Homo sapiens: one gene and its partner. The gene in region 1 interacts genetically with each later gene. Each region holds a gene or a part of one and is shown in the gene's direction. Other genes may lie near its edges. The genes, in order: NUP160 and PBRM1.

Region 1 (3,828 bases):
CCTTCTCTAACATTCCTAACCCTCAGTAAACTTCCCTTTCTGAACTGCATTTGCACTTGGTATTATACAGCTTAGCACTTTAGAGTGATAGCACTTTAGAATTTGGAAGTTCTCTGACATTAGTTTTCAACCCCTAAATTAGCACATCAGAATAACTTATTAAAATACAGATTATGAGAAATCACCCTAGTCTTCTAAGTTAGAACTTCTGCATGATTCTAATGCTTGATCAGGTTTGAGAACCAGTGTTCTGAACCAGTTTCTTGTTTTAGAAATGCAGAAACAAAGGAGTTAAATGAATTATGCATTAATAGCCAAACAAATAACGTTCATTTACTAAATATGTTTGTTTACTAAATACTAAATACGTTAGTGGGAGAGGAATATACGAACCCAAGACATCTAGTTTCTAGTGCTATCCCCATAAGTCACATTAGCCCAAATAATATTTGTTCCCATTTAGCTATATTATTGATTCAGTTGTTAATTTCTAAAGTTTTCCTTGTAAGGCTGGGCATGGTGACTCCTGCCTGTAATCCCAACACTTAGGGAGGACAAGGTCAGAGGATCACTTTAGCTCTGGAGTTTAATACCAGCGTGGACAACATAGCAAGTCCTTGTCTCTACAAAACATAAACAAAATTAGCTGGGCATAGTGGTGCATGCCTGTATTCCCAGCTATTTAGGAAGCTGAAATGGGAGAATCTGGGGCTGAGGCTGCAGTGAGCTGAGATCACACCACTCCACTCTAGCCTGGGTGACAGAGCAAGACCCTGTCTGAAAAAAAAGTTTTCCTTGTAAATACATGCTTTGAATGGTACTCTAAATAGCTATTAAGAATCTGAAACTCATTAGTCATTTTTGTTTTTTTCAAGTGCTACAGATGAAGCATGGCGACTATTATCCACTTACCTGGAGAGGTACAAAGTCCAGAATAACTTGTATCACCACTGTGTAATCAACAAGCTCTTGTCTCATGGAGTGCCTCTGCCTAATTGGCTTATAAACAGTTACAAGGTAAACGGATTATAACTTGTACAGAGTAAGAACCCACTCTTTATCATTCTGGATAACTTCATGAGATGATTAAAAATATGGACTGATTGCAGTGGCTCATACCTGTCATGCCCGCACATTGGTAGGCCAACAGGGGAGGATGGCTTGAGCCCAGGAGTTTGAGACCAGCTTGGGCAACACAGGGAGACCCCATCTCTATTTAAATTTAAAAATATATAAAGAAAAAGAAAAAGATGGGGTGATAACTTATGGGAACATATTGACTTACGTACTTTGGGAAGCTTTTCATCATAGCTAAAACCATAAGAACAATTCAAATTCATTTCCACAGTACTACTGTGTATTTAGATTTGAAGTTTCATAGGTTAGTAATTAGGTTAATGACTCCTATTATATTCACTGAACAATGAGTTTATATTTAGAACAATGAGCATATGCATGACACAGGATTTACTCTTCATACCTCAAAAAAGTCACAGGAGTCGGTGGAGTACTTTTCAAATAATATAACACTATGGCTGGTCTGAGTGCCGTGTTGTTTACAACTAATTGAGCACAACCAGTTTCCGATTGGTTCCTTCTCCACTCCCACTGTTTCACCTATTAAAAATCAAAAACGGGTTCTTAGACTGTCTGCATCAGAATTATTCAGATGGCAGTCTTCTTCAAAATACAGATTCCTCATCCTAGACTTACAGAATCAGATTATCTCAGGCTAGGAGCCAGAAATCTACATTTTAAGAAGCTCCTAATTTGATTTTGATGCATGCTAAAGTTTGAGAACTTCTGCATCTGAACCACCGTTAGTAGGATAAGGAAAGAGAAAATCTAAAGCTTAAAATCAGGAAAGTTTTTTTTGGTTTTTTTTGTTTTGTTTTGTTTTGTTTTTTTTGTTTTTGTTTTTGTTTTTTTTTTAAGGTAGAAAGGAGGCCGGGCACGGTGACTCACGCCTGTAAACCCAGCGCTTTGGGAGGCCAAGGCAGGCAGATCACCTGAGGTCAGGAATTCGAGACCAGCCTGGCCAACATGGTGAAACCCCATCTCCACTAAAAATACAAAAATTATCTGGATGTGATGGTGCGTGCCTGTAATCTCAGCTACTCTGGAGGCAGAGGTTACAGTGATCTGAGGTTGCACCACTGCCCCCAAGCCTGGGCGACAGAGCAAGACTCTGTCTCAAAAAAAATAAATAAATAGGAAAGTAGGGAAGCCAGCTAAGATGGTAAAGGTAAGATTGTGATCAAATGGGAATATAGAAAGCATGCTTAATTAATAGAGCTCTTCCAAATAGAGACTTCAGATTTAAAGCTGGTGATTCTTTGAACTTCTTTTGCATTTGTCATTCATATATTTCTTATTATGTGAATATATTGTCACTTTAGTGTTCAGGAAAAGTTTGTTGACTTTACAACTGTGGAAACTGAAGTGGAGAGAAGTTAAAATATGTCTTAGGTCATAAAACAGGGGAAGAAGGCTATTTAACAGATAAGGGCCTCCCAAACTGCCTAGAGGTAACGGCTCTTAGGGATTTAACTTTTTTTTTTTCCTAACTCCCCAGATTTGTTATCAGCTCTTATCCTAAGATACAGATGAGTAAACCAAGCCACTGGTTTAATTATATTGAGAAATACAAATGTTAGGGAATCAGCCACTCAACATTCTTTGGTCAGTACTCAAGTAGGAGGGAAATAGGTACATATTCTTAATCACTGACTTTTCACAGAAGGTTGATGCTGCTGAATTGCTTCGTTTATACTTAAACTATGACCTTTTAGAAGAAGCTGTGGATTTGGTGTCAGAATATGTGGATGCTGTATTGGGAAAAGGACATCAATACTTCGGAATTGAGGTAGGCATATACAAATGGTCCCCAATTTACAATGGTTTGACTTACGATTTTTCAACTTTACAGTGGTTTGAAAGTGATGAACATTTATGAGAAACCATACTTTAAAATACTGATGGCCGGGCACAGTGACTCATGCCTATAATCCCAGCACTTTGGGAGGCCGAGGCAGACAGATCACCTGAGGTCAGGAGTTCGAAACCAGTTTGGCCAACATGGCAAAGCCCCGTCTCTACTAAAAATACAGAAATTAGCCAGATGCAGTGGCACGTACCTGTAATCCCAGCTACTCAGGAGGCTGAGGCAGGAGAATCGCTTGAACCTGGGAGGCAGAGGTTGCAGTGAGCCGAGATCATGCCACTGCACTCCAGCCTGGGCAACAGAGCGAGACTCCATCTCAAAAATAAATAAATAAATAAATAATAAATAAATAAAATACTCATACAACCGTTCAGTTTTTCAGTTGCAGTACAGTATTCAATAAATTACACAAGATATTCAACAGTGTATTATAAAGTAGGCTTTCTGTTAGATGATTTTGCCCAACTTTATAGGTTAACGTTAAGTGTCCTGAGCATGGTTAAGTAGGCTAGGCTAAGCCGTGATGTTCATTAGGTTAGATGTATTATATGTATTTTCAACCTATGATATTTTCAACTGATAGTGGGTTTATTGGAAAACAAACCCACCATAAGTTGAGGAACATCGGTATAGGCGCATATATATATATATATATATATATATATATATATATATATATATATATATATATTTTTTTTTTTTTTTAACTGAGTTTTGCTCTGTTGCCCAAGCTGGAGTGCAGTGATGCAGCCTCCACTTACTCCCTCACTGCAGCCTCCGCCTCCCGGGTTCAAGTGATTCTCCTGCCTCAGCCTCCTGAGTAGCTGGGATTACAGGCACCTGCCACCACATCCAGCTAATTTTTTAATATTTTTGGTAGAGAT
Region 2 (3,828 bases), on another chromosome or scaffold:
TACAAAGATGCTCTTGTTCTACACAAAGTCCTGCTTGAAACACGCAGAGACCTGGAGGGAGATGAGGACTCTCATGTCCCAAATGTGACTTTGCTGATTCAAGAGCTTATCCACAATCTTTTTGTGTCAGTCATGAGTCATCAGGATGATGAGGGAAGATGCTACAGCGATTCTTTAGCAGAAATTCCTGCTGTGGATCCCAACTTTCCTAACAAACCACCCCTTACATTTGACATAATTAGGAAGAATGTTGAAAATAATCGCTACCGTCGGCTTGATTTATTTCAAGAGCATATGTTTGAAGTATTGGAACGAGCAAGAAGGATGAATCGGTATGTTTTCAAAGCCATTTTTATTTTGAGGATATGTGCTATTTAATACAAAACAGATGAAAGAATATTGCTTTGATGTACTATTTCCACTTACATACATGATTTGTAGTTGGTAGCATGCTATTCTGAATTCTAATCAGCCAGAACTTCTTAAGAGTGAGTATATTCTGTGGGGGAGAGAAGGCACACCACTAAGTCATCTAGTTTAAGGCCAGTGAGGAGGAAGACAAAATTGAAAATCTCTTGAAAAGCATAAACTTAAAATACAGCCTTTCATAGAATGTGTTTTTTAAAAAGATAAATGTTTCTAATTGGAAATAGTAACAGCGTTTTTCTTTTAAGGTTTGGCTTCAGTGCACGAATGCTTTAAATAAAATAGCTCTAAGGTGTTGTCCTGAGGTTAGACTGATAGAAATTTGATCACCATTTTAAGTACCTCAGAGGGTTTCTTTTTTTTTTTTAATCTCAGGTTTCTCACCTTAAGAGCTTGCTGAAGACATTAAATGTTCTAAAAGAAGCAATCAAATTTAGATTTACTTTAAACTTAAATTTCCTTCTAATTTTTATCTGTGATATATCGTTGCTACATGTCAATAGCAGACTTGACTATTAAATTCAGCAATTACAGTGTATTTTATATGTGCACTTAGAGACAGTTGGAAAAATATAAAAAAAAAAAAGATACAAACCTTACCTTCCTGGAGCTTACAGCCTATCATGTTTAGAACTAGACCTTCAGGCAGTGTAATGCCAGCTGGGGAATCTATGAAATCAGAATTTGCTCTGAACCTTTAAAGAAAAGCAAGTAGTAATGTTTGCTTTCAGTGTCTTTGCAAATAAAAGAAAAAAAACATAGTAACATTTGCTGCTTGTGTTAAGCACCAGCTCTTCGTAAAGCACCATGCTAAGCACTTTATGAAGGCAATCTCTAACCCTTATGATAGCCATTCTAGATAAGTGATAATCTTTTCAGTTTGCATGTGAAAGAATTAGAGGCATAGGCAGAGAAAAGTTACCCATAGTCTTACAACTAGTAAATGATGTGACTTGTCTTGCTCTCCACTGCAGAGGGCTACTCCTGAGCCAGTTACCAGGACAAGTCATGGAGCACGGCCATAGATGATAAGCCTTGAGCTCTGTGCTCTAAAAGCTTGAAGTCTGATGGATGGGCCAGGACTTACGCTTAAGGGAAAAATAATTCCACACATGAGACAACATGCCACAACCTTATATTTAGTAAAGATGGTGATGTAAGGAACTCTGTGGGCCACAGTTCTCCTTAAAAGGCATGGGATGATAGGTAGGGTTCAAATGAATAGGCCAGAGGATATTTCAAATAAGATGAATGTTATGAGCAAAGAAATGGAGTTAGGAAATGAATATGATATGTTTAAGAGACAGGGATAGAGTTGGGGCCAGTTTGGTGAGGCCCATGTGTGACACTTTTAAGAAATGGTCCTTAATAATATGGTTCTTCAGCAATTGAGTAGAAATAAAGAGAAGGATGGAGGGACATCTTGCAGTCAAAAACTCTTGGAGTTACTCATTTATTCAACACATATTTATTGAGAGGCTACTTAATGAGCATATTCTAGATGCATGTAATACACCAGTGGGCAAAACAAACTCTGCTTTCATGTAGCTTAGACTTCTTTCTGTTCTTGTTCTTGGCTTAAGTAGTCCTTAAGTCTAATACCCCTCCCTTCCTCTCCTCCCTGCTTAGCCCCATTACATCTTGGTGTTAGTTCTGTGAGTCTTTCAATGAGTATTTGTCTTCTAGATTATTAGGAACTTCGTTTATGTCTTATAGATGAAATGTTTATTTTAAGAATTAAGATTTGTATCTCTAGGAAATTAGCTCTTTTCATTCTCCCATTGTTGACATGGTTGTTTTTTGCTTTTGAGGCCTGGAAGATAGAGTCCAAGGTGTATTTTTATGAGATAGTGATGCACACAGTTTTACCCTCATGCCCAGAGCTTTGTTGAAAAACAAAAGGGATCCCTGGTAATTTAGTAGTTAGGAAAAATTTTTTAAAGAAAAACATACGGGGAGCCATTCTTAACTTTGTGAACAAAGATAGTATTGTGATTGCTTATAGTACTTATTAAGAATAAGTACTTAATAAGAATTGATGGAGATGCATCAATTTAGTGAATGATAAACTATGCCTTTATCTACTATATTATCAGTAACAAAGCTAGGCATCCCAGAAATATTAGTTCATAAATTCAATGAAGTCTACATACCGTAGATTTCCATGTTGATCTCTAAGAGTCTTCATGCTTCATCACCATTTACCCCTACCCCTACCCACCACTGCTACCCAACATCACCTAGGACTTCACAGGCTAAAATAGAAGGAATCTGAACAGTGAGACGTAACAAGAGAAAAATTCACTCAGGTGACAATAGTTTGTCCATCAACAGTATTTAGTAACAGCACAGTGCTGACTCATGCCAGTTGGCTGCTGGCTTTCCTAAACTGCTGGCAGTATTCCCAGACTAAACACTCTGATCCCCTTGCAGGTAAAAGAGACCTGTGGGAAGATGAACAAGGGAAGCATTAAGAGCCTCCTGTATTCTTAATTATTTCCTTTTGCTGAATGTCTGCCTTATATAAAAAGATTACCAATTGAGGGGAATTTAGAGTTCTTTTTCCAGCTTGCGTTTATGTTCCTGCACATTCAATGAATACCTGACCTCGTAGACTAATAAATTCTTTATAATGCTTTGAATAAACAAAAGCATATACTAGGTGTTTAGTGACTCTTGTACAGAATGTTCATTTCTAAACCATGCGATATGATGGAATTATGATCTGCCCTTTTAGTATACCATGAAAGGTATTTACAAAAATTTTACAAAAATTTTTTACTTTTAATTTACAGAAATTTTCACTTTTTATACTTAAAATTGTACACTATTATAAAATGAACTTTAATTTCAAGTGAACAGAATTCAAATATCTTCATTCAGAAAACAAACATAAAATTATGTTTTAGGGGCCAGGTACAGTGGCTCACACCTGTAATCCCAGCACTTTTGGAGCCCAAGGTGGGAGGATGGCTTGCACTCAGGAGCTTGAGACCAGTCTGGACAATATAGCAAGACCTTCCTTAGCTCTACTTAAAATAAAATTTAAAAAATCAGCCAAGCTTGGTGACATATGCCTATAGTCCCAGCTACTCGAGAGGTTGAGGTGGGAGGATTGCTTGAGCCAGGAGATTGAGACTGTAGTGAGCCATGATCGTGCCACTGTACTCCAGCCTGGGCAGCAGAGTGAGACTGTGTCTCAAGAAGAAAAAAAAAGTGTTTCAGGGGTGTCTTCCCTTGGTAAGTTTTATTTTTATTGCTTTCCTACAAGTATTAGCATTTCTATGACCCCAAAAGATATTTAAAACCTTTCCAAGGCCGGACACAGTGGCTCACACCTGTAATCCCAGCACTTTGGGAGGCCACGGCGGGCGGATCACCTGAGGTCAGGAGTTCGAGACC

What was found.
Region 2: changes in NUP160 (region 1) and PBRM1 together harm fitness more than expected from each alone (negative genetic interaction), as found in Homo sapiens cells (one large-scale study listed by BioGRID).

What each region holds. Positions count from the first base shown.
Region 1 is NC_000011.10:47,782,111-47,785,938, reverse strand, and holds part of NUP160 (nuclear pore complex protein Nup160), read left to right. Parts: intron 1-875; coding exon 876-1,017; intron 1,018-2,740; coding exon 2,741-2,866; intron 2,867-3,828. UniProt on the Homo sapiens protein: Functions as a component of the nuclear pore complex (NPC). Involved in poly(A)+ RNA transport.
Region 2 is NC_000003.12:52,605,817-52,609,644, reverse strand, and holds part of PBRM1 (protein polybromo-1), read left to right. Parts: coding exon 1-332; intron 333-3,828. UniProt on the Homo sapiens protein: Involved in transcriptional activation and repression of select genes by chromatin remodeling (alteration of DNA-nucleosome topology). Required for the stability of the SWI/SNF chromatin remodeling complex SWI/SNF-B (PBAF).